Linked DNA regions of Homo sapiens. The protein of the gene in region 4 interacts with the protein of the main gene of each other region in a pairwise test. Each region holds a gene or a part of one and is shown on either strand. Other genes may lie near its edges. The genes, in order: NMT2, LCE1D, SHOX2, PIAS4, CAMKK1, BOD1 and CRLF3.

The links.
Region 1: the proteins of PIAS4 (region 4) and NMT2 interact in binary tests that used the Homo sapiens proteins (3 or more experiments, as listed by UniProt).
Region 2: the proteins of PIAS4 (region 4) and LCE1D interact in binary tests that used the Homo sapiens proteins (3 or more experiments, as listed by UniProt).
Region 3: the proteins of PIAS4 (region 4) and SHOX2 interact in binary tests that used the Homo sapiens proteins (3 or more experiments, as listed by UniProt).
Region 5: the proteins of PIAS4 (region 4) and CAMKK1 interact in binary tests that used the Homo sapiens proteins (3 or more experiments, as listed by UniProt).
Region 6: the proteins of PIAS4 (region 4) and BOD1 interact in binary tests that used the Homo sapiens proteins (3 or more experiments, as listed by UniProt).
Region 7: the proteins of PIAS4 (region 4) and CRLF3 interact in binary tests that used the Homo sapiens proteins (3 or more experiments, as listed by UniProt).

What each region holds. Positions count from the first base shown.
Region 1 is NC_000010.11:15,158,215-15,162,470, reverse strand, and holds part of NMT2 (glycylpeptide N-tetradecanoyltransferase 2), read left to right. Parts: intron 1-2,434; exon of another isoform or gene 2,435-2,638; intron 2,639-4,256.
Region 2 is NC_000001.11:152,795,075-152,799,271, reverse strand, and holds LCE1D (late cornified envelope protein 1D), read right to left. Parts: upstream 2,552-4,197; 5' UTR 2,501-2,551; intron 1,500-2,500; 5' UTR 1,478-1,499; coding exon 1,133-1,477; 3' UTR 1,091-1,132; downstream 1-1,090. UniProt on the Homo sapiens protein: Precursors of the cornified envelope of the stratum corneum.
Region 3 is NC_000003.12:158,103,462-158,108,498, reverse strand, and holds the start of SHOX2 (short stature homeobox protein 2), read left to right. Parts: upstream 1-2,078; 5' UTR 2,079-2,474; coding exon 2,475-2,820; intron 2,821-3,057; exon of another isoform or gene 3,058-3,369; coding exon of another isoform or gene 3,370-3,441; intron 3,442-3,493; exon of another isoform or gene 3,494-5,037. UniProt on the Homo sapiens protein: May be a growth regulator and have a role in specifying neural systems involved in processing somatosensory information, as well as in face and body structure formation.
Region 4 is NC_000019.10:4,027,635-4,031,890, forward strand, and holds part of PIAS4 (E3 SUMO-protein ligase PIAS4), read left to right. Parts: intron 1-511; coding exon 512-553; exon of another isoform or gene 554-555; coding exon of another isoform or gene 556-563; intron 564-875; coding exon 876-966; intron 967-1,085; coding exon 1,086-1,214; intron 1,215-1,296; coding exon 1,297-1,402; intron 1,403-4,256.
Region 5 is NC_000017.11:3,882,646-3,886,901, forward strand, and holds part of CAMKK1 (calcium/calmodulin-dependent protein kinase kinase 1), read right to left. Parts: intron 3,086-4,256; coding exon of another isoform or gene 3,043-3,085; coding exon 2,683-3,042; intron 1,783-2,682; coding exon 1,735-1,782; intron 1,293-1,734; coding exon 1,239-1,292; intron 836-1,238; coding exon 784-835; intron 531-783; coding exon 397-530; intron 1-396. UniProt on the Homo sapiens protein: Calcium/calmodulin-dependent protein kinase that belongs to a proposed calcium-triggered signaling cascade involved in a number of cellular processes. Phosphorylates CAMK1, CAMK1D, CAMK1G and CAMK4. Involved in regulating cell apoptosis.
Region 6 is NC_000005.10:173,609,829-173,614,084, reverse strand, and holds part of BOD1 (biorientation of chromosomes in cell division protein 1), read left to right. Parts: intron 1-829; coding exon 830-954; exon of another isoform or gene 955-958; intron 959-4,256. UniProt on the Homo sapiens protein: Required for proper chromosome biorientation through the detection or correction of syntelic attachments in mitotic spindles.
Region 7 is NC_000017.11:30,796,906-30,801,161, reverse strand, and holds part of CRLF3 (cytokine receptor-like factor 3), read left to right. Parts: intron 1-3,763; coding exon 3,764-3,851; intron 3,852-4,256. UniProt on the Homo sapiens protein: May play a role in the negative regulation of cell cycle progression.

The DNA.
Region 1 (4,256 bases), on a different chromosome or scaffold from region 4:
TTTTATTTGAATTAATTTAAATTTAAATAGCTCCATGTGACTAGTGGCTATCATACTGGACAGCTCAGATCATATTCAGTCTTTGAATTTTGTTTATAAGCTTTCTTGGTACTCAAAAATTTCTGTATTTTATTTCCTGTCTTTGGTAGAATATGTCTAGTTTTCATTCTTTTTTTCTTCTGTGGATTATCTGTACACTTTTTTTTTTTTTTTTTTTTTGAGACAAGGTCTCACTCTGTCATCTGGGCTGGAGTGCAGTGGCACAATCTCAGCTCACTACAGCCTTGACCTCCTGGACTCAAGTGATCCTCCCACCTCAGCCTCTCAAGTAGCTAGGACTACAGGCACATGCCACCACACCTGGCTAATTTTTGTATTTTTGTAGAGACAGGGTCTCACTATGTTGTCTAGGCTGGTCTCGAACTCCTGAACTCAAGCAGTTCACCCACCTCCGTCTCCCAAAGTGTTGGGACTACAGGCGTGAGCCACCGTGCCCGGCGATCTGTACATTTTGAACAAGTATGTTTTCATCTATATTTCTTTATCCATATCAAAAAATTAACCACTATTTAAAATATTCTACCATCTCACAAGAAAAATCATGTAGGATATTTTGACTTCTTTTCATTTCCTAGGTTTAATTGAAATAACCTGGAATTGTAATTCTTTTATTTTTGCCCTTGTGTCACTAGAGACTTTTTTCTTAACTATTACATGTTTCACATTCCTGTTAACAAAAACATTTTAGACTTTCCTGACAGCTTTATTGTTTTTATGGGTTTCCATCGTTCTTTATAAAACACATCCTCCCGGCCAGGCGTGGTGGCTCGCACCTGTAATCCCAGCACTTTGGGAGGCCGGGGTGGGCGGATCACCTGAGGTCAGGAGTTCGAGACCAGCCTGGACAACATGGTGAAACCCCATCTCTACTAAAAATACAAAAAAACATTAGCCAGGTGTGGTGGCGGGCGTATGTAATCTCAGCTACTCGGGAGGCTGAGGCAGGCAGGAGAATCACTTGAACCCAGGAGGTGGAGGTTGCAGTGAGTCGAGATTGCACCATTGCACTCCAGCCTGGGCGACAGAGCAAGACTCTGTCTCAAAAAAATAAAAGTAAAAAATAAAACACATCCTGTCTTTTTCTTCTTTAACAGCATTCTCACATGATTTTTTTTCTTAGAGTGCGTGGATGATGTATTTTGAGTTCTTGCATGTCTGAAAATGCCATTCTTTTCCCCTCCCACATAATACATAGCCTGGGTGTGCATGTGACTCTATGATAACAATCGTTTTCCTTGAAACTCCATAAACGTTTTAATATCTTCCAGTATTTACTGGTACAGATGTTGTTTTCTTTGTGTTTTTTTTTTTTTTTTTTTTTTTTTTTTTGATTTTTGAGGCAGAGTCTCGCTCTGTCACCCAGGCCAGGCTGGTCTCGAACTCCTGACCTTGACCTCAGGTGATCCACCTGACTCGGTTCCCCAAAGTGCTGGGACTACAGGTGTGAGCCACTGTGCCTGGCCAGATGCTGTTTTCTCTGCTTCTCTGTCTTTTATAGGTAATCTTATTCTTTTTGTCTGTTTTAACTTGTTTTCAGTCTAGAAGCTTCTGGCATTTTTTCCCTGTTGTTCTATTACCAAAGGGTTTCCATGTCCTTTCACATGCTGGGATCGCCTGTCCTTTATTTTTTATTTTTTGCAATGGAGTCTTACTCTGTTGCCCAGGCTGGAGTGCAGTGTCGTCATCTTTGCTCACTGCAACGTCCACCTCCCAGGTTCAAGCGATTCTCCTGCCTCAGCCTCCCAAGTAGGCAGGATTATAGACGCACACTACCATGCCTAGCTAATTTTTGTATTTTTAGTAGAGACGGGGTTTCACCACGTTGGCCGGCTGGTCTCGAACTCCTGACCTCAAGGAATCTCCCCACCTCAGCCTCCCAAAGTGCTGGGATTACAGGTGTGAGCCACTGCACCTGGCACCTTTCCTTTACTATCTAAACAAAATGGCCTGAGCTGATACATGTTCATGGGGGTTTCTTGGGGTCTTAAGTTTTCATGGTCCTCAGGCACACCCACACTGCAGCCAACTTGCCCCATCACCGGGCTCCTTGTGCCTGTGTGTCCTTAGGGTGCTCTTTTTCTTCAACATTTGACCTTGGGTGGAACACGGTTATCTTCAGTTCTGTGTCTCTCACCACCCTCCTCCCAGGAATCACTAAAATCCAGCTATTGTGCACAGCATTTGCTGAAGCGTTTGTGGCTAATGGGGAGGGAGGGAGGTCTGATTACAGAGTAGCGCAGAAAACAACTTTGAATTCAGTGTCAGACATCATTGTTCACCAAGAGGAATTTGTTACTGCTCACGCCTTTCTGTGGGTCATGGCTTCCTCTGCTTCTGAGAGTGTCTCCTGATCTTTCTTCTCCTCTTCTCTAAGTTCAAGGTCAGCCCAAATGTCCTTTCTTTCATGAAGCCTTCCGCAGCCACTATGACCAAAGGCGCTGACCCCTGCCGGAAGCCCTGTAGCTCTTAGTGAGTGTATCTTTCCCGTGACATCTTTCCCAGTTGCTCTCACCTCATCTCCCCAGCCCTCTGCTCGGGAAGACCCTCATTCTCCTGCCCCAAGCTGTGGCTCCTAGAGGTGAGTTCCTTGTCCACAATCACAAATGGGAGATGTGGGTCTTTGCGTCTGTTGCTTAATGTGTGTGTAGCATCTACCAACCAGCTAGAGTAAAAGGTTTTATTTTGCTGGGCGCAGTGGCTCACGCCTGTAATCCCAGCACTTTGGGAGGCCGAGGCGGGTGGATCACCTGAGGTCAGTAGTTCGAGAGCAGCCTGGGCTACATGGTGAAACCCCATCTCTACTGAAAATACAAAAATCAGTCTGGCACGATGGCGGGCACCTGTAATCCCAGCTAATCGGGAGGCTGAGGCAGAATTGCTTGAACCCGAGAGATGGAGATCACTTTATAAGCACATACTGCAGTGAGCCGAGATTGTGCCACTGTACTCCAGTGAGCCTGGGCGACAGTGAGACTCTGTCTCAATAAATAAATAAATAAATAAATAAATAAATATTTTAAGGAGGTTTTATTTAAATATACAATAGGTTATCTGAAAATAAAGTATGGCTGGACTTTATTAGAATTAAACATTATAGAAAGTCAAGTACCCAAGGTCCATCTGTCTTTCTAACCTCTCTCCCTTTCTGTCTCAGTCTCTGTCAACTAGACTGCCCCAAGCATCTGTTCCTTAGTTCAGATTCTCCAGAAAGGATCTCACTGGTTTCTGGCCAAGAAAGGGATTATCCAGGCATGATCCAGTCCACTGTGATGGAGAAGGGAAAGGGAGGGGTAGAAGAGAATTGTGTGGTACAACATGGCCACTGAGGGCCACACCTTTGGTGAGACCTGTGGGCAAAGGGAGTTTTCAGGGAAGGACATAGTGAACAATGCTGGCACCTTGCTGGGACTGAATTGTATCTCCCTGCCAATTCATATGTTGAAGCCTAAATCCCCAACGTGATGGTGTCTGGAGGTGGCACCTTTGGGGGGTAAATAGCTTACAAGGGTGGAGTCCCCATGAATCGGATCAGTGTATGCTTATAAAGAGATAGAGTCCAGTGCTTTGTTGCTCTGCCAAGAATAAGGCCCTCACCAAAAACCTGACCCTGCTGGCACCCTGATCTTGGTGGACTTCCAGCCTCCAGAACTGTAAGAAATAAATGTCTTTTCTTTAAGTAATCAGTCTATCGTATTCTGTAATAGCAGGCTGAACTAAGACACACCTCAAAACATGTTTGCAGAACACAGCGTGTCTGCCTGTCTACTCACAGGTAGATTGTGTGCATGGAGACAGCACTTTCAGTCTCCAATCCTTGCAATACCTGGTACCTTGCATGTGTTTGTAACTTACTAAAGATTTGCAGAATGGATTCCAATAGCTCTTAATTCCCATTGACAAATTTATTTCAAATTGTCTTTATTTTATATGCATTAAGAATATGTGAAGGCTTTTCTTTTTCTACTTCTCATTGAGAGGACTTTGGCTGTAGAGTTTTTAGTTTTGGTCTGCTATATAGGGCCCAACATTTTTAAATGGTAACTAATTTTTTGACCTCTTGGCATATGCTTATGTATTTTTCTTTTTTTTTTTTTTGAGACAGAGTATCTCTCTGTTACCCAGGCTGGAGTGCAGTGGCGTGATCTTGGCTCACTGCAACCTCCACCTCCTGGGTTCAGGAGATTCTCCTGCCTCAG
Region 2 (4,197 bases), on a different chromosome or scaffold from region 4:
AAAAAAAGGCTTAACATTTTTATGGAACCATAGAAGACTCCAAATAGCGAAAGTGCTCCTGAGTAAAAAAGAATAAAGCTGGAGGCATCATACTACCTGATTTCAAATTATACTACAAAGTTATACTAACCAAAACAGTATAGTGCTGGCATAAAAACAGATGTATGAACCAAAAAAAAAAATAGAAAATCCAGAAGTAAATCCATAAACTTATAGCCTATTTTTAAACCTTACTGCAAATAATGATTAATAAATAATCAACTACATTTTTAGAGTGTTCCTTGCAATTGTGGTTACAAAAGAGTGTATACATTTGGTAAAACTAATTGAATTGTTTATTTTAAAAAGGGGTTTTATTGTGTGAAAGTTATAGATCAATAAAAGTGATTTAAGTTTAAAAACTAAAGATTTATTCCATATAATGTGAGTATATATAAATATGTGTGTATATATATACATGTACACACACATATATTTATATGTCTACTACGTGTACATACAATCTGAAGGAGGAGTCCGGGGAGATTGTTAGTGGAAGGAGTGGGGAACGAGGAACACAAGAGTGAAGAGGTGACAGTGAGAAGGAGGATGAAGTCGGCCTCCTGGCCATGCCTGAGGGATGCGGTTACATAGGTGAAAGGAACCAGAATTTGAAAGAAAAATATTTCTCAATGCTATTTCAGTCCCTTGGTTTAAAAGGAAAACACAGAAAGAAGAAAAAACACAAAACACACAGAAATGCAAGCTTTTTCCTCCTGACCCCTTCCCCATCCTCTGTCCACCAAGGCCTCAGCAGCCACCAGCAGACACAGGGGAGCAGAACAAGGATGACACAAACAGGAAAATCAAGCAGGCTGGTAGCAAATTGGGGAGCAGATTCTGGATTTTATTTCTTCAGTTCAGGCAGCACAGAATACAGTAGCGTGAGCTGGGGAGGAAGTAGGTGTGTGCTTTGGAGTTCCCAGGGCAGCCATGGATCTGCAGAAGAAAGTCTCTAAATGCCATTAAGGAGAAAGATTTTGGGTTTCCTGACACCAGAGCAGAGGGATTCTCCAGGCAAGACTTCAAGCTTTTGCTGGAACCTCTCAGCTATTCAGGCAGAATCAGAAGGAAGAGGAAGTCAAGGTCCACTTCAGCAGCAGCCTCCAGAGTGCTGGCTGCTGCCCCCACCGCAGCAGCTGGAGCCCCCCGAGGGCTGGCTGCAGCAGTCAGAGCTCTGGGGTCTGCGACGGTGGGACCTGTGGCGCCTGTGGTGGCTCAGGCAGCAGCCACCACCCCCAGAGCTGCAGCAGCCCCCAGAGTTGGAGCCACAGCCGCCCCCAGAGCTGGAGCCACAGCAGCCTCCGGAGCTGACACTGCAGCAGGAAGAGACTGGAGGGCACTTAGGGGGACATTTAGGGGCGGGGCACTTGGGAGTGCACTTGGGAGTGCACTTGGGAGGGGGCTGGCACTGCTGCTGGCTCTGCTGGCAGGACATCTCGGTGGTGGGTGTTCAGGAGCTGAGGGAGAGTCAAATAACAAGTCAGACCCAGGCAGAGGCCACCTCTGCCCCTGTGACACTCTTAGCACCTCTCAAGTTTAAAAGCATCATCTTCAGTAGTTTTATTTCCAATAATTTCCTCAAAATCTCACATCATCTTTTTCAAGATATCTTTGGATGTCAGACAACTGTAAACTAAGACTAAACAATATTGCAAAATGCATCTAAGATTCTGATGTGTTGTCAGTGGAGGAAGAAATTATTACAAATATATCTTAAGACTGAAATTGTCTAATTTATGAGTCATTTAAGAGAAAATTATTTTTAAAGGAGAAGAAGCAGTCATTCTCTCTGGTCATAATTTGCAAGACGATTTTACTTTGGAAGGTCAGCATTGTGCAGGATCTTGGAGACTACTAGGTCAGTAAACTCACTTCAATAGAGACAGATAAACTTAGCAGTTTCTGCAGACTAGTACTTGAACCCTGACCCCCTGATCTCAGGTTGGAGCTCAGACTTCCTCACTCACCACCTGCTCAGGCTGATGGGATGACACGGTGGGTCTCAGGCTTGGTGTGTCCTAACCAAGCTGGGAAGTTTGTGAACAAATCTCAGACCCATGAAAATGTGGGGTTCATAAACCCCAAAGAGTCTTTAGTCCCATGTCCACAGCTCCAGTTCTTCCCTTGCAGGCAGAGACAGGGTTGTATCTTCAGAGGTGGGCTTCCCTCCTGTGGGCTGCCAGAGTGGAGCAGGTCTCTGTGCTTCAAAGTTCCCACTCTGGAACACCCACCTCATCCCAGAGCAGTTTGTTTCCTCTAGAGTTCAAAGGCACATGGCACAGCCCGCCAGCTCTTTTCCTCTTTTCCTTCCTGCTCCCAGTTAGTGCCAGACCCCTTTTGGCCCCCGCCCCTTCAGTCTTTTCTAAACTCTCCACCTCTGACAACATGGCCCTAGCCCCGGAGGCCCTGCCCCTCCTTCCCTCCTGCTCTGTTCTGAGCATCCCTGCTCTGTTCTTACCGGAGTCACAGGCAGCACAGGGTTCTTTAGCACCTCAGGAGGTGAGTGGATGGGGTGGTCTGGCCCTGAGCCCTTTTATCCTGGCCTGGGCTCTGCCCCAGCTGTGAGACAGGGCCTGGGCATGAGAGGACCTTCCTTCTGACACCCACGTGGGTCTTGTGATGGTTGGTGACTGACAGCTCCTCACCTGCCTCTCTCCCCAGGCTCAAGGCAGCCACTCCCAGGTAGGAAAGTGCCTACTTGAAACGGGGTTCCAGGATGACTCCTACCATCACCTACCTCATTCACTTGAAGGCTGCTTGCCCTGAGAGCCTCTCAGTTCTCAGTCTTAGAACTTAGGACCTATCTCATTTCTGTCTCTTCCGAAGTACCTGATGCTCCGTGCAGCCTGGGTTGAAGTTGAAGTACTAATCCCTGAGGTTTCCATGCATGTTTATTTCTGTCCCTGTGCACCACCAAACTGTGTGGCTGTGGGTGCAGTGTAGACATCTACACAAGTAAAACCCTGGAAGTATAACCCGGCCCAGGACCAGGCCCTGCGAGATGGGACTGTTGAAACTATTTAGCCTGTACCATTTTTTAAACCATAAAGCTGGAAGATGAAAAAGAATTAGTTACAGAAGAATTAGTTGGTTGTGAAAGTCAATAAAGTAACACAAAAAAGAGAAAATGTGCCTGACAGAGAGACTGAAACATTGTAGGCTCTGAATAAGTGAAACATTCATAACTTGCTGAATACAGAATGAAGATACTGATCTTTGTTTAACAAACGAAGCACAGCTTTTTTCTAATGAGAGTGAGTCTGGCTGTTTGGTGATCTGTTTGCTTTTAAATAGCCCTTTTCTTCTGGTGGGGTCCTTGATGTGTCAGCACTGAGATGTGAACAAGGAAGCAGCTCATTAGAGAAACAAGAAGCAGCAGCTCTGCTCTTTGTATTGGTGTGAGAATTTGGACTTTTCTGGGTTCACACTGGGAGCACCGGATGATGGTCACAGATGAGAAACAGGAAGAAAAGAGACATGGTTGTGAGACATTATAAGTCTACGCTTCCATGTGGGGTCAAATGGCTGGCAGAACCCCGTCCTGGACCATAAGGGGACGGGTGCCTTTTAAGAACAAGAGTCCTTAATATTTAATGTGAATGTGTTTATGCTGCTACTTTGGAAGCCCCTCTCCTCTCTCTCCACTAGAATCACTAGCTTTCTACATGTCCACAGGATTTATATGAATGGAGTGTTCTGAATTTATACATTTTTAGGATATTAATGAAATGGGCTGCTGTTCATTCTAGGACACACTAGTCACTAAGACAGCCATGACTGCAAGGTTATCCACAAATTAAACTATTTCTTCAGAGGAAGACCAAGAAAAGCCAGATTAAACCATATGAGGGACAAGTCCTCTTCTTCCCAGCCCCTGACAGACTCTGGATATGCCCAGAACTTGGGAATGATATCTAGGTCAAAATGGACATGGTGACCCTAACCAAAACGTGGTGGAGATACATGTATATTTATAAACACATATACAGAGCATACATATTGAGAGAGATGTATATGTGTGTGTACCACCTGTCTCAGAGCATCAATTATTACAGCTGCCCAGACTCCTGTGATAACGTAGTATCTCCAAACACTGTAGTGTGTCTTTGATTCTGTTCTTTTATGACATCCAAGAAAACATCTTCCATCCCTGTA
Region 3 (5,037 bases), on a different chromosome or scaffold from region 4:
TATCAGAAAGTAGTTACAAAGAGTAACCCAAGACTCAATGTGAAATTGTTTCTAAATTCGTATAACTTTGAAACTTTGTCCCTTTTGTGGTGTAACAAAACAAAAGCAAGTACTGATAACAATGTATTCATACCTAAAAGCTATAGCTGCGGAAAAATTATAGACATTAGCTCTCCTAAAAGTGGCAAAAAATGAAATGTTTTAAAAAGGGAAAACAACGTTTCTAAAAAGCATGATATACATAATCCTTAAACTCACCAAACATGAACATTTTAATGTGAGTATTGTAGTATAACATAAGGTTATATCCAGCTTCTATCTACATCTATTTGAGAAACACTAATATATTAAGTTATAATTGTGTTCTCTTTTTGCAAGTGTTTCAGGTTGTTTTGACGGAACTTCTTAAATTATCTGCTAATTTGTTTTGATGCCTTAACCAATATACGGAAGATATACATATTAATGTTCTGTAATTCCTCTTATTTTTACTAAGAGTATTAGATCCAAAATAATGATCAAGTTACCTTTAACTTCCAGAAAGTCTGCATTAATATTCAGAGTACTTGAAAATGTCCCCTAAGCCACACTTAGAGGTATATTTGTTTACACACTTAAATATAACATCATATGTAAATATTCTTTTGTGAGTATGTATTTGCATAGCCACACTTCTCACAGCAAGCCCTGTCCGGCACAATACAGACAAATGACTCAGGAATATAGATGTTCCTCTAACGTAACAAACCGTTCCGATGAAAATAGCCCAGAAATAGAATTTTAAATCGTAAGCGGGGTGGTGGGGGGGGTAGGCAGAGAGACCTTTACTCCTGGCGAGCGTCTCTTTTTTAGCTCTCCGTAATAAATGAAATTAGAGGGGGTACAAACTTAACGTCGATTTTTTTTTCAGACTCGAAGAGGGATAATCTCTTGTTTTTCAAATTAGTAAATAAACTCGGATGTTTCCCAAGATGCTAAAGAAGAAGTCCTGTAATTCACCATAGAGGGGTCCGAGTGCAGAGAGTAAGGGAGAAGGGTGGGAGTTCTGAGACCTCAGAGAGGAAACGAACGAAGTCGAGCTGTCCTTGACCGGGCGCTAAGGAAACACTTTAAAATGAGATCTGTCAGCTAACAGCTGCTGGGGAAACTTGTTAAATCGACTGGTCCCTTTTAGCGGGGTCTGTCCATAGAGGAGTCAGCTGGGCTCCAGGACACGAATAATAGAGCGAATAACACGGACCGAGGGGCGAGGAGCTTGGAGAAGACCCGGACTCAGCCTGCCTGCGAGCCGGGAAGCTCCTAAGAGAAGCTGCGCGGGTCGGAGAAGGTGCAGGCAACCCTGTCTCTGGGCAGGATGATGCTGGGCGGTGGAGCTACGGCCGGCAGGGGTGGGATTGTGAGGGAGAGGCGGGGATGCAGAATTGGGATGCGGGGTCAGGATGCGGGAATGGGATGCGGGGCCTGTAAACTGCTGGGCGGTTGATGCAGGGCAGGGACGAGGAAAAGCAATGCGAAGCTGAGCATTGCGAGGCACCCTGACTCGAAGCAAGGCTGTAGGGAAGGATGCAGTGTCGGGATACCTGACTGACTCTAAGAGCTGCGCACTTGTCAGTTTCCTCTTGGCCCCACCCCGCGGGGTCTATCCAGCTCCCCAGTGTTTAACTAAGTCGTGACACCAACGCAAAATCCACGCCTAATTAAATTAATTAGGGATTCTTGTCAATCCTGGATTAATGGCCAAGAGCACAGGCGGCAGGGGCTATCTGAAAACCTGAGCGGCCGGGGACCGGCCTTCTCTCCCCGCCCCCTCCGGTCCCCCTGTGCTGCCCTACCACTCCAGCCCCAGCCCGCCCGAACTCCAATCTCTCTCTCTCCTCTTCTCTCTCTCTCTCTCTCTCTCTCTCTCTCTCTCTCTCTCTCTCTCTCTGTTTCTCTCCTTTTCCCCTCCCCAACCCCCGGTAGAGGCGCGACTGCTACCCGGGAAGGGGGCTCACTCCGAGTTGCGAGGGGAGGTAATTTACTCAAAACAAGAGGCCGCCGTTAGGAAGTATAAATAGTGGGACTTCAAGCGCAGCGTCGCTATCAGATCTGAACTCTCCGCAGGAAGAATTGTCAAAGATCTTAACATTGAACAAGCGCGCTCCGGCAGGGAAGCATCAGTTCCCATTTCCCTCCGGCAGCCCCCGCCCCTTCTCTTCTCCTCCTCCTCCTCCCTCTCCTCTTCACCCTTCTCCCCCTCTTCCTCTTCTTCCTCCTCCTCCTCTTCTTACTTCTTTTTCTCCTTCTACTTCTCCTCCTCTTTCTTCTTTCTTCTCCTCTTTTTCTTCTTCTTTCTCCTCCTCCCTCTCCTCCCCCACCTCCTGTCCCATTGATGTGTTATTATTGGGGGGGCTGGAGCAGTAAAAAAAGAAGAAGGAAAAAAAGAGCGGGGCTCTGCTGGCAGAGGTTGAGCGCCGGGCTGACGTGCGGCGGCGATGGAAGAACTTACGGCGTTCGTCTCCAAGTCTTTTGACCAGAAAGTGAAGGAGAAGAAGGAGGCGATCACGTACCGGGAGGTGCTGGAGAGCGGGCCGCTGCGCGGGGCCAAGGAGCCGACCGGCTGCACCGAGGCGGGCCGCGACGACCGCAGCAGCCCGGCAGTCCGGGCGGCCGGCGGAGGCGGCGGCGGAGGAGGCGGAGGCGGCGGCGGAGGAGGCGGAGGAGGTGTAGGAGGAGGAGGAGCAGGCGGAGGAGCTGGAGGAGGGCGCTCTCCCGTCCGGGAGCTGGACATGGGCGCCGCCGAGAGAAGCAGGGAGCCGGGCAGCCCGCGACTGACGGAGGGTAACGACCTGACTGACCCCCGGCAGCGGTTCCCCTTCCCGCCTTCCGGACTCCTCTCGGGCGGGAGAGGACTCCGAGGCCCAGCGGGGAGGGGAGAGGGACACGGAGAGGGCCCTGGACCCCAGCTTTGTCAGCTAGAGTGATAGTGGAAGGGTGGGGGTCCGGTGGTATGCTCGGTCATGGGTGGGGTCCTAGTGTGTTGTGGGGGTGGCGTGGGGGGAAGCGTGTGGGGTTTGTGCGCGCCCTTCCCAGATGTTCCCATTCCACCGAAATGCATTTTTCACCAGCGGGAGGATGGGCCCGCAGCCCGGATGGCCCGCAGGCGGACGTGGAAGTTCGCGGGGCCGGGCTGCAGGAGGGGGTGCTGAACCAGACGGCGGGACTAAAGCTAGCCTCTAGCGCAGAGTTTGCCGGGAGGGAGAAGGGGCAGAGGTGGAAAGCTTAACCCTCCGGTCGCCTAGGTGTTTGGGGCCGCCAAGACCCCTCGAACTCCGCAGAGCCCCTGAATCTTTGGATCTTAGGGGCCAAAACTTCCCATTCTCTTTCAAGGTAGAAGGAAGCCAACGAAAGCTGAGGTCCAGGCTACGCTGCTTCTCCCGGGCGAGGCGTTTCGGTTTCTTGGTGTGTTGGGGGCGGGGGGGGGGGGCGGCGGGGGAGGTGGGGATCTATATTTACACAATTCCTTTAGTGTTTTCAATCACCCAGTACTCGGTTCTCTTAGAGCAAAAATCCTTTGGTGCTAGCTCAGTGTTAGGAAACGTCTTTATCTCAATGGCAGAGCGTTCTATACCAATTCAAAGGAGTTCAACAATAAAATTGATTTGGCACTTGGTGCCTGCAGTAACTGGTGTACTGCCATATTTTTCCAATTAAGAAAATATGTGGCATGCGTGGAATCACATATTTAAGCAAGCAATTAAGTTGTTTATGACACGGTCTGTTCCTGTTTAGATCAGTAATTGGAAATTTGGGGACAAAAATAGAGATTTTATTAAGTCTATGGATCAACTTGAAATTTGGACATCTCCTCGAAGCCCCAAAACTTTGAGTGGCATCCACTGTGTAGATGACATGTAATAGACAAAGCCTTCCCACCTCATTGGCAGAATTTGAAGGGTGTGTTTTCATATTTAAATTTCAATACAATATCAGTAAAAATACTTTGCTATTAAATTGGCCCATAATGTTTACTATAATGTTCCTTCCTAAAGAAAGGACAAATGTCCACAAAACTAACTCTGAGAACTAGAAAATACGGCAATATTTAAGATCACCGTAGCTAGAATGCCCGGCAGGGCCGAGATCTAGCGACTCTTCTTCCTCCAAACCAGCACCAGGTCTTCCTAAATTTGTAAAGTGGTGGAGTTACCGTCAAGGTGCCCAGTGCAGCCTCCCGGCCATGAGTCCACAACTACAGGCCCGAACTACAGGTTCGCCAGCGCGCCTGACGGCGAGGTTCAGGTCTGAACCCCCGGCGGGCGCAGTTCCTGGGATTGTTGATTTCCAAGCTCAGGGCAAGTATTAATTTCTCTGCAGACCGGCTCTTCCGGAAATGATTTTTAACACCCATGCTGGCCTGGATCCTGCGCTGGGAAGAACTGCAAACAGCCTCGACTATCTAAACTCAGCTTTGACTTCTTAAAACCCGGAGTCTCTGATTCGGGCGCAGAGGATAAAGGTTCCAGGGGGATATATATATGGTGGCTGTATATGCTCACACTAGAAGAGCTCCTGTTTTTAAAGGGAGGAGAAGGACAGGAAAGTGGCAACGGATGTGTGCAAACCCAGAGCAGAAAAATTCATATTTTATTAAACATCCGAGCTGCTGGTTGCATGAAAAGGCTTTGAGCAACCAATAGAAACCGAGGATCGCGAATATTCCGCTTGAACCTGTTGATCTCTGTGGGTTAAGCGTTTAGGGTCGAGTCTGCGTTTCCACGAGGGAGGGCGAAGAGAGAACAGAAAGAGCGGTTGCTTTCGCCCGCCACCGGAGGCTGGTTTTCCGCCTCCTGCCTTCTGGCCCGGCTTGGGCGGCGAGCCCTTTGGGCAGCCAACATGGCGTGGGCGCCTGTGCTCGTGCGACCCCGGTCGGGCAGGCGGGACGGAGATTACCTGGCTGTCCAGGGGACCTTATGCAGGGTTTGGCCCGAGCCCAGGGGCAGCGAGGGGCGTCTGCGGATGCGGCTCCCTGTGCGGCACAACACCGGGGTCTGTTGC
Region 4 (4,256 bases):
TTGCAGCCTGTGCCTCCATGGGTTCAGACGATCCCCCTGCCTCAGCCTCCAAGCAGCTGGGACCACAGGTGTGCACCACCACGCCTGGGTAATTTTTTGTGGAGACAGTTTCACCATGTTGCGCAGGCTCGTCTCAAATTCCTGGGCTCAAGAGCTCCGCCAGCCTTGACCTCCCAAACTGGGTGTTTTCTTGCCATTGTGAGCCAGCTGCTAGATTCCCGCATGCACGTTTTAGCTATGTTTCTTCGCAGGGAGAGGCACCTGGCTGCCCTCTCTGGTTCAGGGTTTTGCTGTGGATTCTGTTGCATTTTCCAGGGAGGCCAGCCCCTCTCCTGACCTCACAGCCACTCCTCTCACCCAGCCCGTACAAAAGAGTCCTGGGCCTCAGTTTCCCAGCTCTGGGGGAGGGAGCCTTGTGGTGTGGCGGTCTCCACCTTGTCGGGTGGGCTGGGGTCACGCCCTCCTCACTCAGCTCTCCTTTCCTTTCCTCTGGTTTGCTCCACACCCACAGGGAACTGCAGCCCGGAGTTAAAGCCGTGCAGGTCGTCCTGAGGTATGCCCAGGTGTGCCCGCGACCCCAGGGCTGGACCCCCAGCCACCCGCCCCTCCCCGCCCCCCAGTCCTGGCCCAGGCCCTTCTCAGTCTCCCCTGCTAACAGCAGAGCCCAGCTCTCCTCACCTGCTGTCTATCCCTGTCTGGGGATACATCACCATCCGACCCCCACTCAGGCCACACCCGGGGGCCCTGATACCCCCCGTGTCACATTCTCCGGTGCCCCCATCACTGCCGCCTGGCTACCACTCGTGTACCCCCGCAGCAGCCTAGTCCCTCCTGTGCGCCCCCTCCCCGCCCCATGGTCCCTGTTGTCGTTGCAGAATCTGTTACTCAGACACCAGCTGCCCTCAGGAGGACCAGTACCCGCCCAACATCGCTGTGAAGGTCAACCACAGCTACTGCTCCGTCCCGGTGAGCATGCCCCGCCCCCGCGTCGGCTGCACGGGTTTGGGGGGCGTGGAGGGAGGGTGGGGGCCGTCGGATTTCCCAGCCGCTCTTGGCTCGAGGCTGAGCGGCCCATCTGCTTGCAGGGCTACTACCCCTCCAATAAGCCCGGGGTGGAGCCCAAGAGGCCGTGCCGCCCCATCAACCTCACCCACCTCATGTACCTGTCCTCGGCCACCAACCGCATCACTGTCACCTGGGGGAACTACGGCAAGGTGAGTGCGTGCCCGGGTGCCCACCCTGCCCCCCAACCCCGGCCCCGTCCTGCCAGCCCTGACCCCTTCCTTCTGTCCCCAGAGCTACTCGGTGGCCCTGTACCTGGTGCGGCAGCTGACCTCATCGGAGCTGCTGCAGAGGCTGAAGACCATTGGGGTAAAGCACCCGGAGCTGTGCAAGGCACTGGGTGAGCAGCTCAGGCCACCTCGGCCGAGGGGTGCCAAGTCCACCCTGGAAACCCGCCCTGTGCTGGGTGAAGCGGGGGGCCCTGCACCCGGAGGAGATCGATCAGGGGCCGCCTGTCACTCTGGGGGTCCATGGCCCCCCGGCTGTGGCTGGGGAGGTCTCTGGAGGATACGGATGGCAGAGGGGGCACTTGGCAGTGGGAGCTGCTGTGCGGAGGCCTGTGGGGTCACACCTCGTGTTGCTGGCCCCAGGTGCTCCAGCCCACAGGGGTCTAAGCAGCAGAAGAGCTGGAGCCTCATTCCGGGACAGCACAGAGGCCGGGAGGGGTGAGAGGAGCACAGAGGGAGCTGTGGTCTAAGCAGCCCCTTCTCGTTGCCTCAGCGGGGCCGAGGGTGCTGCGGGACCTGGCGGGTCACGGACGGCCAGGGTCGTGGAGGCAGTTGCTGTGGGAGGAAGACGGGCGGCGGCGGTCTGACCTCACGTTGGTGAGGCCCCGTTTAATCTTTTTTCTTTTTCTTTTTCTTTTTTTTTTAGAGAGTCAGGGTCTCTGGGAGGTAGAGGTTGCAGTGAGCTGAGACTGCATCGCTGCACTCCAGCCTGGGCTGCAGAGCGAGACTCCACCTCAAAAAAAAAAGTGTCTCGGTGTATCGCCCAGGCTACAGTGCAGTGGTGGGATCGTGGCTCACTGTAGCCTCTAACTCGGGCTCAAGCCATCCTCCTGCCTCAGCCTCCTGAGTAGCTTGGGACCACATGTGTTCACCACCACACCCAACTAATTTTTTTTTTTTTTTTTTTTTTTTTTTTTGAGACAGAGTCTCACTCTGTTGCCCAGGCTGGAGTGCAATGGCACGATCTCGGCTCACTGAAACCTCTACCTCCTGGGTTCAAGCGATTCTTCTGCCTCAGCCTCCTGAGTAGCTGGGACTACAGGCATGTGCCACCATGCCCGGCTAATTTTTTGTATTTTCAGTAGAGACGGGGTTTCACCTTGTTAGCCAGGATGGTCTTAAGCTCCTGACCTCGTGATCCGCTTGCCTCGGCCTCCCAAAGTGCTGGGATTACAGGCGTGAGCCACCACGCCCGGCCCCAACTAATTTTTTAATGTTTCGTAGAGATGGAATCTTGCTGTGTTGCCCAGGCTGGTCGTAAACTCCTGAGCTCAAGCAGTGCACCTGCCTCAATCTCCCAAAGTGCTGGGATTACAGTCTTGGCCACTTTCGCACCTGGTCTCTTTTGTCCTTGTAACAATGAAAACAATTTTTTTTAAGTGACACGCAGAGCAATTTTAAAAGAAAGCCTGCCGGCAAGGCGCAGTGGCTCACACCTGTAATCCCAGCACTTTGGGAGGCCGAGGCGGGCAGATCATGGGGTCAGGAGAGCAACACCATCCTGGCTAATATGGTGAAACCCCATCTCTACTAAAAATACAAAAAATTAGCCAGGCGTGGTGGCAGGCACCTGTAGTCCCAGCTACTCGGGAGGCTGAGGCAGGAGAATGGCGTGAACCCAGGAGGCAGAGCTTGCAGTGAGCGGAGATCGTGCCACTGCACTCCAGCCTGGGTGAGAGTGTGAGACTCCATCTCAAAAAAAAAAAAAAGCCTGCCAAGCCTGGTAGGCAAATCAGTCCTCACCCCAAGCAGCCACGCAGCACAAAGCCAGCGTACAGCAGTTAGCCCTGCCTGGCGGCTGTGTGGCCTCAGAAAGTCGCTGGCCTTCTCTGGTGGCCACTGTCTTCAGGAGAATAGATCTGAGCCATCTTGAGGGCACCTGGACATCTCTCTGGACCCCACATGCTTGGGGCCCAGGCCTCAGTGGGCTCTGCAGGCCTGTCTTATGGAGAGGCTAGGCCTAACCTGGAGTCATTTGGAGCTGGGAGTGGGAGTCAGGCAGGTGGGTGAGGACTGGGACCACCTGCCAGGCTGACGAGAGGGCGGTTCTGGGCCAGCCGGGTTTGCTCGCACCCCCTTCCCGAATGGTGGCTGTTTTCAGGTGGAATCTGGGCACCACCCCAGCCCCTTGGCAGAATGTGGGCCAGAGGGTCTTCCAGCTGCCCCTCCTAGCTGCCCAGGCCCCTGTGCCCAGGCCAGAGAGTTCCCCATGAGCACTGCCCTCCTGGCACAGCCAGGCCCAGGCCTCTGGTCCCTGTTCCTGACCACCAAAGGGCACCTCCTTGCCTGGGTGTCCAGAAGCCTGGAGCAGTGCTGGCACTGCCAGGGGCCTGCGAGCCCCATCGTGTTGAAGCCTCCTGTGCACTCCAGCCCCCCAAGTCAGGAAAGATAGCCGGCAGCACCCCCTCTGCAGAGCAGGACGTGGAGGGTGAGGGGTCCCTCCACGGAGTCCGGCATCCTTGGCCAGCCTCCTCCAGGCTCGGGGATGGAGGGCCTGGCTATGTACCCGTGTGACCAGTGGGGACACTGAGGCACAGAGTGGCAAAGTTAGGGTTCTGTGTCCTGGGTTACCCCGCCCCACCTCCCTCTTCCCTCAAAGGGCCCTTTTTTCAACCGCCCCCGACCTTCCCTGCCTGTGGGGACATGGCCAACTTGAGGGAGGAGGCTGGGGCCGGGCAGGCCTCTTCTAGGCCCACGGGGTGGGGGCCGGGCTTAACTCCTCAGTGACCAGAGCCCGCAGTGCTGGGGGCTGTGGGGTCAGGCTTCCTCTCCGAAGGGGTCTCCTGCTGCTTCCCACAGCCGGCCCCAGGCTCAGCCTCTCTGTCACTGGATTTCTTTCTTGCTGCACCTAGGAAGTCCTCACCTTTGCCTCACTTGAACCCTTCCTGCTGCGCACGTCTCTCCATACACAAAGGAGGGAGAGTTTGCTTTAAAATCAGATGGGCACCTGCATCCCCTCCTAGCTGC
Region 5 (4,256 bases), on a different chromosome or scaffold from region 4:
CCCAGAACCCTTAGTATGCATGCAACCACCCCAGACAAGGAAGCAGGAAGTGTACAGGTGGTGCCAGACTGATGGGGCCTCAGAAGTCACCGACCCCCAACCTGGCCCGCCACACGACATCCAGCCTTCCTCCCCTCCAGCTGCAATGAGGGGCTCACTTCTTGCCTCTGGGGCAGCCCCTCACCCTCCATGGGAACTTGGGAACATCCCTGACCAGGCTGGGCCCCCAAAGCCTTCCTGCAGCCCCACCCCAAGTCTGGCCCTGTCCTCAGAGGCCTCAGCCACATCTGCCACCTGGGCAAGATCCCTGGGTCTGTGCTAGGGGCTCCCCAGCACCAGAAGCGGCTCCCATGAGACTCAGGTGCTGGTTCCCACCTGCTCACCACCACCCCCTACCTCGATCAGTTTGACCACATTCACGTGGTCCAGCTTCTTCAGGATGGCAATCTCCTGGTACACCCGCTCCAGGGGCAGCAGCTGCTTGGCTGGTCCTCCCTGGGCAGCCTGGGACCCTCTCGGGGGAGGGCGACCTGTGACCAGGAAGAGAACTCAAACACCTGTTCCAGGTGGCTGGGCCTCACCGTGGCCCCCAAACCAGTCTCAAGCAAGAGTCTTGCATGCCCGTGGTCTTGTCCCAACCCACAGGGCACATTCTGTCCCCAGGCCTCTGCTCACGCTGTCTCCCTCTCTACCCCATTCCTAGCCAAAACTAGCTCAGGATCGAGGTCTCCTCCTCTGCCTCCAGGCTAGGAGCTCCCAGGGACAGGATCAGAAGATACATACGTGGAAAGCCATACTGCTTCAGTAACTTCTTTTTGGAAAGGACTTTCATTGCCTAAGGAAGGAGGGACAGAAATGTCACTACTGTGCAGCCACCAGGGGCTAGAACAGGCTGGTACATGTGGACTGAGGTCCGGAGAGGCACACTGGACATCTGCTACTGGCCCTGAGGGTGTGGCCCAGGTAAGTGTTAAGCGGGGTTGGGGGTGGCCATATCTGAGCCTAGCCCTTCCCCTTATTCCCCCAGCAAGCCTTTCTGGAGCTTTCCCCTCAGAGGAATCCAGTCTCTGCTTGCATATCCCCAGGGTTAGGAAGCTCATTCCTTTGCATACCCCTAGGGACAGGGAGCTCACTCTCAGGCAGCCCTGTCCTCTATCTCCTAAGCACAACTCCTGCCCCACCCCTCAGGCTTCCAGGGCCTGGCTTGGGCAACACCTCCCTCGTATCCCCAGACTCACATAGTGTCTGTCTTCACTTTCGTTGTAGGCCAGCCTCACCACACCGTAGGCACCCTGCAGATAGGCATCAGTCAGCCCCACCTGGACAGGGCAACCCCTCCCAGGACCAGCTCAGGAGGTGGGGAGCCGAGCAGCTCTGGTCTCTCCTGCACCCCATCTGCACTACCCACCACCAGCTGGCTCACGGGCAAATATTGTAGCAGATGGGGAGGGGACTCCTGCGCCCTGGTAACTGCCCCTGCTTGGCTCCACATGGCTCCATGCCTCCCTCAGTCCCTCCTTGTCCACTGTCAAGAACTCAGAGAGTCGGGAATCAGGAGCCATCTTCCACCCTCCCCCTGGGTACCTGGGTACTTCCCACAGGGCACGAAACTGTCCTCACCTCCAGGCTAGGACTTGCCTGGCTCTGCCTCCCGTTCCCTCCCACACGAGAGAAGGAGCAGCGCCAAACAGAGAATCCCGAAGCCCCCACTGCTCTCGGCCTGCCCACTCCTACCTTGCCAATCTCACTCTGCAGCTTGTACTGGTTCAGCTGCACGCAGTCCTGTGGGGGAAGAGCGAGCACCAGGTGGAGCTGGGTCCGGAGGCAGCACTGCTCCTACCTCAGAGCCCGTTCAGGGTCCAATTCTGGCCATAAGCTCCTCATTCCCGGACCCCCAGGTCTCACCAAGCTTTTGAGTTTGGATGGGGAAGTTGGTGGTGCCATCGCCCCCGTATGTGACGAGAAGACGTGGCTCATGTTTGAAAACATGGATGGTGACGCCATGGCTGTGCCTTGTTCCCCAGAAGCAGTGGTGAAGGGAAAACGCTAATTCCTGTCTGGATTCTGGAGTCTGGAAGACCCTAATCCATGAGAAACCCATGAGCAACTATTTCCAGAAGCAGCTGAATGAGAAGGTCTAGACTCCAAGGACAAGATGAGGAGCCCTGGGCACAGAGGCTGAGAGCCTGGGTTCAGGCACAGAAAGCTCAGCCCCTGACATCTGTAGACTGCTTGGAACCTGAGTTCACTTTCAGACCTAAATGGCAAGAACTCCAGCAGAAGCCCAGAGGCTGGAGGCAGGCCGGCCGCTTCTGAGTCACAGCAGACTCTAAGAGGCAGAATTAGAGGCGAGGGGTGCAAGCTGGAGAAGAGTTAGGGGGGAAGGGGGACATAGCATCTATCTTCACATCTCTAAGAAGACTACATAGGGGACCAGGGAGAGACCTATTTCCTAGGCCTGGGCTGGGAGTGGGAATAGCAGGACTTAGGGAAGGCAGCCTTTGGCTCAGCTGGAGCTCCCCTGGTTGGGAAGAAGCTATATTGTTAGGTAGTGATCTCCCCAGCTCTGAGGGTATGCAAACCAAAGCTAGATAGCCGTGTGGCACAGACAGGGGCAGGAAAGAGTCTTCATTGCAGACTACTGAGGGGCTCATGAACAACCCCTCGTTCTGCCCCACCAACCTCTGCATCTGAGATGGCCACGTGGTGGGACTCGATGGTGGGCCTCCGCCAGGCCCGGGGGGAGATGTGGCTGGCAGGCCCCGTGGCATAAGGCCCAGCCTGCGCCTCCAGATAGCTTCCTGCTGGCCGCTCCTGTAGGGAAAGCTTCCTGGCTGAGAGGCTAGGCCGGGCTGGGAGCAGTCTTGAAGTACTGCCAGGGATCACAGAGGCAGCTCTGGCCCGTGGTGGGGGGTCCACACCGTTTCTAGTAGGCTCTGGGCCACCATCTGCCTCCTCCAAGTGAGTCACATCGATGGCTGCCACCCGTTCTACCAGCTCTGCCCGAGGATCCTGGCAGCAGACAGCTGGACCCCCCTCCATTGCTTCAGTCAAGGGGGTTCTTCTGCGTAGCCTTGTTGGGAACCTGAGAAAAGAAGGCAGAGAAGGCTTCACTCCTGGGTGTCAGGCTGGCTACCAGGTAAGGTAGCCACAGCGCTGTGGGTCCCACCTCCATGCCTTTGCCCTGGCTGTTCCCTCTACCGGGATTGCCAACACCCAAACTCAAGTCTGTCCCTATGACCTGAATGAATTCACATCGGTTCTGCCGCATGCCAGCCCTCTAGGCCTCAGTATCCCTGCCGGTAACAGAGGCAGTCACTTCTGCCTGCTGGCTTCACAGGGAAGCAGAGAGAATCTGATATTCTGGAATCAGGACAGACAGGGCAGAAGCCTGGAGGCCCAGCAGCACTGGAAGGGGCAGAGCCCAGGGTCAGCTCAGCCCCAGCACAGCATGCAGCCCTGTGAGTCATGAGTCCCAACCCTTGACAGCAGAGCACTCCGACACTGCCTCCTGGAAGCTGAGCTAGACACTAGTAACTCAGAAGCCTTGCTGATGCTTCAGACCCACCCGCCTCCTCCAGGGAGCCCTCCTTGATGTTTCAGCCTCCTACCCCCATCCCTCTCACTGCTTCCAGGAAGACTTCCCTGGGGCTCCCGACTCCAGCCAGCCCTGCCTCATTGACGTCTGTCAAAACAAGGGGATGGGCCCCACATGGTGGCTCACACTTGTAATCCCAGCACTTTGGGAGGCCGAGGCAGGTGGATCACCTGAGGTCAGAAGTTCGAGACTAGCCTGGCTAACATGGCAAAACTCTGTCTCTATTAAAAATACAAAAATTAGCCAGGCATGGTGGCGTGCACCTGAAATCCCATCTACTCGGGAGGCTGAGGCAGGAGAATCGTGTGAACTTGGGAGGTGGAGGTTGCAGTGAGCCAAGATCACGCCACTACACTCCAGCCTGGGTGACGGAGCAAGACTCGGTTTCAAAAAAAAGCAAGGGGATGAGAATGAGGGGAATGAGGGGTGAAACAGGGGCATGACATCCCCTGAGACTCATGTTCTCAAACTCACTGTGTGGCGGCTGAAACATCAGGGAGGTGACCCCCAGCCCTCACCTTCAGCCATGACCCTGGGCTACATCCTGACCCCGGACTGAACCCTGACACTCAGCCTGAGACCCCCATCTCTGTCCCAGGCTTGTAGAGCGCTGGCCATGCCCAACCTGATGCCCTTCCCCCTGCTTGCGCTGGACTCT
Region 6 (4,256 bases), on a different chromosome or scaffold from region 4:
TACTGTTGGTTCAGAGTGGAGTCATCCATTTGGTTACTAGTATCTCTTGATTACATTTTACAGCTTCTTCCTCTAGAGAGAGGCTGTCAGCTCCAATCTGGGAAATCCCAGGGAATGTCTGCATTGTCTTAGCGTGGCTCAGGCACCCACTCCTGTGGCACCCTCTGCCCTACCCTTGTGAAGAGAGGAAGACAGTTACTAGAAAGAAGGCGTTACTAGGCAGATAGCACATGGTATCTGTGAATTTTACTCCTCTGCCCCCATTTCCTTGCCTTTCTCTTTTCCAGGTTTAGTGGAGTCTTTGAGTTTGCTCTCTCAACCTTTTGGAAGAGGCCAGTCATGGAATTGAGGCCTGCTGGTTCCTTTGTCAACTTCATTTCCCTGACTGTTAGCAAACTTTGCCGCAGTAATGCTGCATAGCAAACTGAATCTCAGCAGCTTATAACCAGCACTTGTTCACATGTTCATGGGGCGGCAGGTCTACCAAAGTTCAGCTGAGCTAGGAAGGCTTCAGCTGGTGGCTTGGCTGCAGGCTGCCCAGGTGTGGGTCCAGGCTGTGGGTTGATGTCAGGCCTGCTGCATGTAGAGTTACTTAAAAGCAAATGGAATAATATAAGTAAAGCGCCTGGCATTGTGCCCACCCACCATCAGGTGGGCACTTGTGTTAACCATTAATTCCTGACTGCCACATTGCATGGTGATCTTCATGCACAGTGGAAGTGTATTTAGACTTAATAACGTTTCTGTGAAAAGCAGTGTTCTGAGAGACTAAGTTCAAAACTTTGGTGCATATAACTTCTGACCTTGCCTCCTCTTTTTAACATTTTAGCCAGCTTACCAAAACCTGAGGCAGAAAGTGGATAATTTTGTGTCAACACATCTGGACAAGCAGGAATGGAATCCTACGATGAACAAAAACCAGTTGCGAAATGGTCTGAGGCAGAGTGTGGTTCAGTAAGTAAGCAGAATTTAAAGCTTTTGAAAAGGCAGTCATCACAAGTGTGATGCACAAGAAGGTTGAGGTCTCTGTTTAGTCAAGGTTGATGGGACTTTATATCAAGTATCACTTAGGAGTTGCAGCAGTCTGCTCTTTTGTTATAATTAAGGTTAAAGGAAGCAAAGTACTCAGTTGAAATTCCAGTTTCTGCAGCCTGTGAAGGCCTCCTGTGTGCATCTCTACTGGGTGCATCAAAAGGCATTCCAAATCGTGAGACATTTTCCCTGCTCTTTGAAGTTTCAGTGTTGTCCAAACATATATGTGAGTTTTATACCAAGATATCAGGGTTTGGATCTTGGGCAAGAGGAGTTGGATCTTTATTCTCACAGGTGAATGTGAACTAAATAAATTCTTTGAGTCCACCAGGACTGCCACCTCTAAAGTGTAATGGTGACAGCTTTCAGGAAGGCATAGTCTTAATAAAGTATCGTACTTCACAGTAACAAACTGAACCTTAGTTAATAAAGGTGCTATTGATAGCTTATCTGAGTGACGCACAAAAGTGGAGGTGGAGGAGGGTACAGAAATGGGAGAACACATTAGTGATTGCCTGGGGTTACGGATGGGAGGAGGGGGTGAGTGTGACTTGCAAGTGGTAGCACAAGGGGGAGCTTGCAATGGTGCAGTTAAGTGTCACTGAATTGTGCTGTGCTCACGTGCAACAGCTCGTATGGTAAAGTCGCACGGAGCTACACACACAAATAAGTGCAAGTGTAACTGAAGTCTAAATAAGGTCTGGATTGGACCAGTGTCATTTTCCTGGTTTTGATATTGCACTAGTTACGCAAGGTGCTGACATTAGAGCTGGCTGGGTGAAGGGTGCGTGTGGAACTCCCTGGACTCTTCTTCACAACTTCCTGTGAATATGCAGCGATTTTAAGATTTCTAAAGTTTTTAAAAGTGTTTTACTAACAAGCTAGTACTTCCAATATGGCTGAATGCTGGGAAGAAGCCTGATAGCAGAAGATGCCCAGTGCCTTGTCATTCTGGAGTCAGTACCGAGTGCCTTTCCCTTTCTCCAGAGAACAGACTGGTGGCACCGGGCTCTTTCAGAAAGAAGGGGACAGTAGCTGCCCCTTACTGAGCAACTCTTTATTACATGTCTGGCACTGGTCTTTACATATATCACTCATCCTCATGAAAAGCCTGTTTCACAGCTAAAGTCACTTGTGTTTACCCTGTCTTGAGTAAATCAAAACACTGAACATTCTGAAATATTTGGAAAGTTGCCATGATTGTATGAAGGCTGTTAACATTGCTTTGATTTCTGTAATGAGCATGGATGTCATTCTAGAGGTATGCATGTGGCGCTTCCTCTTGCATTTCTTTAGTAGGAATTGTAATACGGAAAAGTGCACAGAAGTTCAGTGAAACAGATAATTAGAACATCCCTTGATCACCCAGATCGAGAAATGGACTCACACCCCCGAAACAGCCTAGCTCCGGATGTACTTTCCTCCTTTCGGAAGTTTTCCATATTCCTGACTTTTATACTAATCATTTCCTCTCTGCATAGTTTTTACCACCTCTGTGAAGTTGTTGTTTTTTTTTTTTTCCCTGCTTTTTGATTTGACTTAGAATGTGTTTAACCTGAAAACATGAACTTGGCTTTAATACTGGGACATTTCTCCACAATTCTTGCTAGCATTTTGAATTTGAGGCAAAATCTACTGGAGTTTCGAAACGCAGACTTTCTGCTTGCCCCCAGGTGCTCTCCCCAGGTGGACACTGCAGGCCTTCAGAGCATTGGCTCACTGGCCTGGCTGTTCTGGCCCAGATGCTGTAACCCAGTGCCACAGCCTAGAGGGTTTAACAGGAAATTAGCCTGTGCTATTGCACTGAATTATGACGAATAACTCTTGTAACTGTACAATATTTGTTTTTTCCATCTTGTACATTGGGCTCCTGACAAGATTTTATGTTTTCCTCAAAAGTTTAAGAATCTCCAGGAAAGTGAGCTGCACTCCCTTGGTAGTTTGTTTCCCCTGATCAGGGGTTTTGGTCAGTTGGGGATGCTTTAACAAGGCGCCGTAGACTAGGTGGCTTGTAAACAATGGAAATTTACTTCTCACCATTCTGGAGGCTAGAAGTCCAAGACCAAGATGCCAGCATGGTCAGGTTCAGGGGAAGGCCTTCTTGCAGGCAGCAGACTGCCAACTGCTTGTTCTTCTCATGTGGTGGAAAGAGAGCTCGCTAACTTCCTGGGGTCCCTTTTGTAAGGGCATAAATTGCATTCGCGGAGGCTCTGCCCCCATGACCCGATCGCCTCCCAAAGGCCCTACCTCCAAAGGCCATCACATTAAGGATTAGATTTCAACATAGGAAGTCTGGGGGACACAGGCATTTAGTTGATAATATCAAGCTTTTACATCTGGTAAAGGACCCTGTGAATCCGACTCAGGAAGTGGTTTGGTAAAGTTGGAAAGGTATTGGCTTGTGACTGAGGAGAGGTGGCTTTCCTTTGTTAGCATCCCATAGCCGGATGCTAACTTTGCTGTATTTAACGATGCTCATCACTAAGGGCCGATACTGTCTAATGCCTGGTCTACCTGAAAATGTGCCCTTCAGTGCTCTAGTGGTGGTGTATTTACATCTAGGCTTCCTGTCGATAAGCTGTTAGTTACCATTGAATCCAGGGAGCACTTTACACACTAATCATCTTTCCCAGTTCACAGCCTGTTTCTTATCTTCTTTGTCATGATGTACATTTACTCATGTCTTTCCTTTGCTGTACCCTGACAGACCATTTGCCCACTTGCTGCCCAGCCTATTTTTACCCGAAGGCTTAAATGGCCTCTGAAGTCTCAAGTCTACGGGAAAATAAGTAAAACCTGCCCACATGCTTGTGATGGTATTGGAATATTTCAGTCCTTTGAGAAGAACACTTCACTTTGAACCTTACGGGCTATTTTCCAGACTGTCCAAATATGATTTGTTTCCTCTCACCATCATTTCCAGTACCCTGTCCCAAGTGTTTGAATATAGACATTGATATGCCCTGATTTTTGCTCTACTTCAGAAAGGATCGGGGATGTAATTTAGCCCTCTAGGAGCTTGGAACTAATTTGTTTGTCTATTTCTTGTTTGCTTCCAAGTTGCTTATTATGTGTTACAGGTAGCAACTACAGCTGAAGGCCATGGTGAATTGCTGGTGATGTAAATACTCCCAGCCCTGACTGATCGGCCTTGTTTAAATTTTAAGGATTAGTAAACAGGTTGCTGCTGGAGCTACTTCTGCTTAGGCTATTAGGAGAATAAA
Region 7 (4,256 bases), on a different chromosome or scaffold from region 4:
GAGGATCATTTGAGGTAAGGAGTTCGAGACCAGTCTGGGCAATGTAGTGAGATTGTCTCTAATTTTTTTAAAAAAAAATAGCTAGGCGTGCTGAGCACAGTGGCTCACACCTGTAATCCCAGCACTTTGGGAGGCCGAGGCAGGCATATCACAAGGTCAAGAGATCAAGACCATCCTGGCTAACACAGTGAAACCCCATCTCTACTTAAAATACAAAAAGTTAGCCAGGCATGGTGGCAGGCGCCTGTAGTCCCAGCTACTCGGGAGGCTGAGGCACGATAATGGCGTGAACCCAGGAGGCGGAGCTTGCAGTGAGCCTAGATCGTGCTATGGCACTCCAGCCTGGGCGACAGAGCGAGACTCCGTCTCAAAAAAAAAAAAAAAAAAATTAGCCAGGCATGGTGGCACACACAAGTTGTCCCAACTACTCAGGAGGCTGAGGTGGGAGAGCTTGAGCTATGATTGCAGCACTGCACTCCAGCCTGGGCAACAGAGCAAGACCCTGTCTCTTAAAAATAAAAACAAAAAAACAAGACAGAGTTTTTTTTTTTTTTAAGAAGTAGAATTATTGATGATTTTACTGAGCAGTGACTGTTATCTGTAGATGATTACCTACATATGTGATGGAGGGGAAAGGAAAGGATTTGTGATAACAAAAATCAGCCTACTTTTGGATTCTGAATAAATAGTGGTGCTGTTTTTGACAAAGGAATTGAAGGAGAAGGCGGGTGCTTAGTACGTAGTTAGGCATTTGGCTTGGGCATGGTGAGTTTGAGGTGCTTAAGATGGAAATACGGGTATGATTCTTAGGAGAGAGATCATACCAGGAGATGTCAGTATGGCAGTTAATGGCATATATATCAAATCTGAATCTATTGGAATAAGTACAATCATCAAGGGACACCGTGTAATGTGAGAAGAGCAGATGAAAGAGATTAGAACGCTAAGGGTCACCAACATTTAAAAGTCATTTGAGGAAAAAGGAGCTAGGGAAGGAGACTGAATTCCATCTCTTCTGCAGAATGAGTGCTGGGAGTGGTGTGGGAAAAAGGCGTGGATGATTCACATGGCTGTCACTCCACCTGGAAGTTAATCTTCTTTTGGTCCCACTTAGAATATAGTATGGGTGTTATCTTGACATTGCTGGTTACATTTTTGTCTTGTCTTCAATGAGAAGTGTTTATTTGCCACTGACCATAACAGTACTTTTGAGAAAATTCTAGCAGTACCATGAAATGTCTTTCCTTGGTGGCTTTGCATTTGGAAACAAACCCAGAAGCAGTGCACCACGGGCCAGGAGTGTACACTCATCACCCTGAGGACTGATCATTTGTTTTTATTTTAGAAGATAAATCCTGGCCGGGCGCGGTGGCTCGTGCCTGTAATCACAACACTTTGGGAGGCCGAGGGGGGCGGATCATCTGAGGTCAGGAGTTCAAGACCAGCCTGGCCAACATGGTGAAACCCCGTCTCTACTAAAAATACAAAAATTAGCTGGGCATGGTGGTGGGCACCTGTAATCCTAGCTACTCGGGAGGCTGAGGCAAGAGGTTGCAGTGAGCTGAGATTGCACCATTGCACTCCAGTCTGGGCGACAAGAGCAAGACTCCATCTCAAAAAAAAAAAAAGATAAATCCTGGCTGGGCATAGTGGCACATTCCTGTAGTCCTAGCTACTTGGGAGGCTGAGGCGGGAGGATCCCCTGAGCCCCAGAGTTTGAGGTTGCAGTGAGCTGTGATTATACATCACACTCCAGCCTGGGTGACAGAGTGAGACTCTGTCTCAAAAAGAAAAAATCCCTTTGAGGCAGTGTGAGTGTTACAGCATTTGATACTTGAATATTTTTGTATGTCCAAAATTTAATTTAATTAATTAACTTATTTATTTTTGAGATGGCGTGTTGCACTGTTGCCTGGGCTGGAGTGCAGTGGCACGATCTCAGCTTGCTGCAGCCTACGCCTCGCAGGTTCAAGCGATTTTCCTGCCTCAGCCTCCCGAGTAGCTGGGATTATAGGCGCCCGCCACCACGCCCAGCAAATTTTTTGTATTTTTAATAGAGACAGAGTTTCACCATGTTGGCCAGGCTGGTCTAGCACTCCTGACCTCGTGATTTGCCCACCTCGGCCTCCCAAAGTGCTGGGATTACAGGCGTGAGCCACTGTGCCTGGCCTATGTTTTTTAATTAAAAAAAATTATTATACATCTCAGCAGCAGAAGGAAACTTTAGGAATATTTTTAATGTCAAACTCTTTCCTATTCTCCTGAGGGATAGAAACTTACTTATGGAATTTTGAGGATTTTATTTATTTATTTACTTATTTTTGAGACAGAGTCTCACACTGTTGCCCAGGCTGGAGTGCAGTGGCACGATCTTGGCTCACTGCAACCTCCACCTCTCGGGTTCAAGCGATTCTAGTGCCTCAGCCTCCCTAGTAGCTAGAACTACAGGAGCGTGCCACTATGCCCAGCTACTTTTTGTATTTTTAGTAGAGACGGGGTTTCATCATGTTGGCCAAGCTAGTCTTGAACTCCCAACCCCAGGTGACCCACCAGCCTCAGCCTGCCAAAGTGCTGAGATTATAGGCATGAGCCACAGTACCCGGCCATGTCTCTGTTTTTCTTTTGGTGAAGGAGAAGGTCATATGGTCTCAAAAAACTTGAGTAACTACAGGGCACATTTAGATGGAAAAGAGTTCTGGCAGTGTTCTTCAGGGCTGTGGAAGGACATAGAAGTTGGTCATTTTCATATCATATGCCTCTATGTAACTTTTTTTTTTGGCGGGGGGGACGGAGTCTCGCTCTTTTGCCCAGGCTGGAGTGCAGTGGCGTGATCTCGGCTCACTGCAACCTCCATGTCCCGGATTCAAGTGATTCTCCTGCCTCAGCCTCCCTAGTAGCTGGGAATACAGGCACCTGCCACCACACCCAACTAATTTTTGTATTTTTAGTAGAGACAGGGTTTCACCATGTTGGCCAGGATGGTCTTGATCTCCTGACCTCGTGATCCACCTGCCTCCGCCTCCCAAAGTGCTGGGATTACAGGCGTGAGCTACCGCACCCAGCCTGACATTTTCTTTTTATTGTTCTGTTGAATAATTTGTAATCTGATATATGATACTCTTTTAGGAAAACATAGATGCATCATTTGGCTTTTCAAGCCTTATGCCCAGCCTGGGCAACATAGTGAGACCTCATCTCTACCAAAAAAAAAAAAAAAAAAATAGCTGGGCATGGTGGCGTGCACGTGTGGTCACAGCTACTTGGGAGGCTGAGATGGGAGGATTGCTTGAACCTGGAAGTTCAAGGCTGCAGTGAGTTATGATCCTACCACTGTGCTCCAGCATGAGTGACAGAACAAGACCCAGTCTCAAAAAAAAAAAAAAAAACACCCTATCCCCTGTTGCACCTCTCAGGGCAATATTTTGTACTGGCTCCTATTGAAGTTCATAATGATTCTGTAGGAGAGATGGAAAGAAGTCCCTGGGCTTTCTGCTTTGCCTAAAATTGGTTGATTTCCTTGTATAGAGTAGATAGATTTTTCATCTCTGGCAAAATGTTGCCACTGTATATCCCTTTTCCTCTTGGATTTGATCTTAGAGTCACGTCTAAAATAGTTTCTACTTTAACTTTTTGGGAATTTGACTGTGGCATCACTTAAGAACTTATTTGCAAGAACGCTAGAGACCCACCCAGACATGAGTTGTGTTGATTACTTTATATGTGACCATTTTCATTGTTCTAGTTCTCTTATTCTTGATTGTAGGTGAAATCGCCATGCTTGGTGGTGTGGGAGAAGAGAATGAGAAACTGTGGAGCTTTACCAAAAAGGCCTCGCACATTCAGTTGGACAGGTAAAAGAGTTTGTGCCTTTTTGACTTACTTTTAAGCATTTAAACTATGTCTGCTTTTTTCCTCCCTCTGTTCAAGATTCTCATTAAGGGAGATAGAGAATATATATTTCAAGGTTTTCAGACCATGCGTGGTGGTTTACACCTGTAATCCCAGCACGTTGGGAGGCCAAGGCGGGTGGATTGCTTGAGGCCAGGAGTTTGAGACCAGCCTGGCCAACATGTTGAAACCCTGTCTCTACTAAAAATATAAAAATTAGACGGGCATGGACCTGTAATCCAGCTACTTGGGGAGGCTGAGACAGGAGAATTGCTTGAACCCAGGAGGCAGATGTTGCAGTGAGCCAAGTTTGTACCACTACACTCCAGCCTGGGCAACAGCAAGACTCCATCTCAAAATAAGTATAA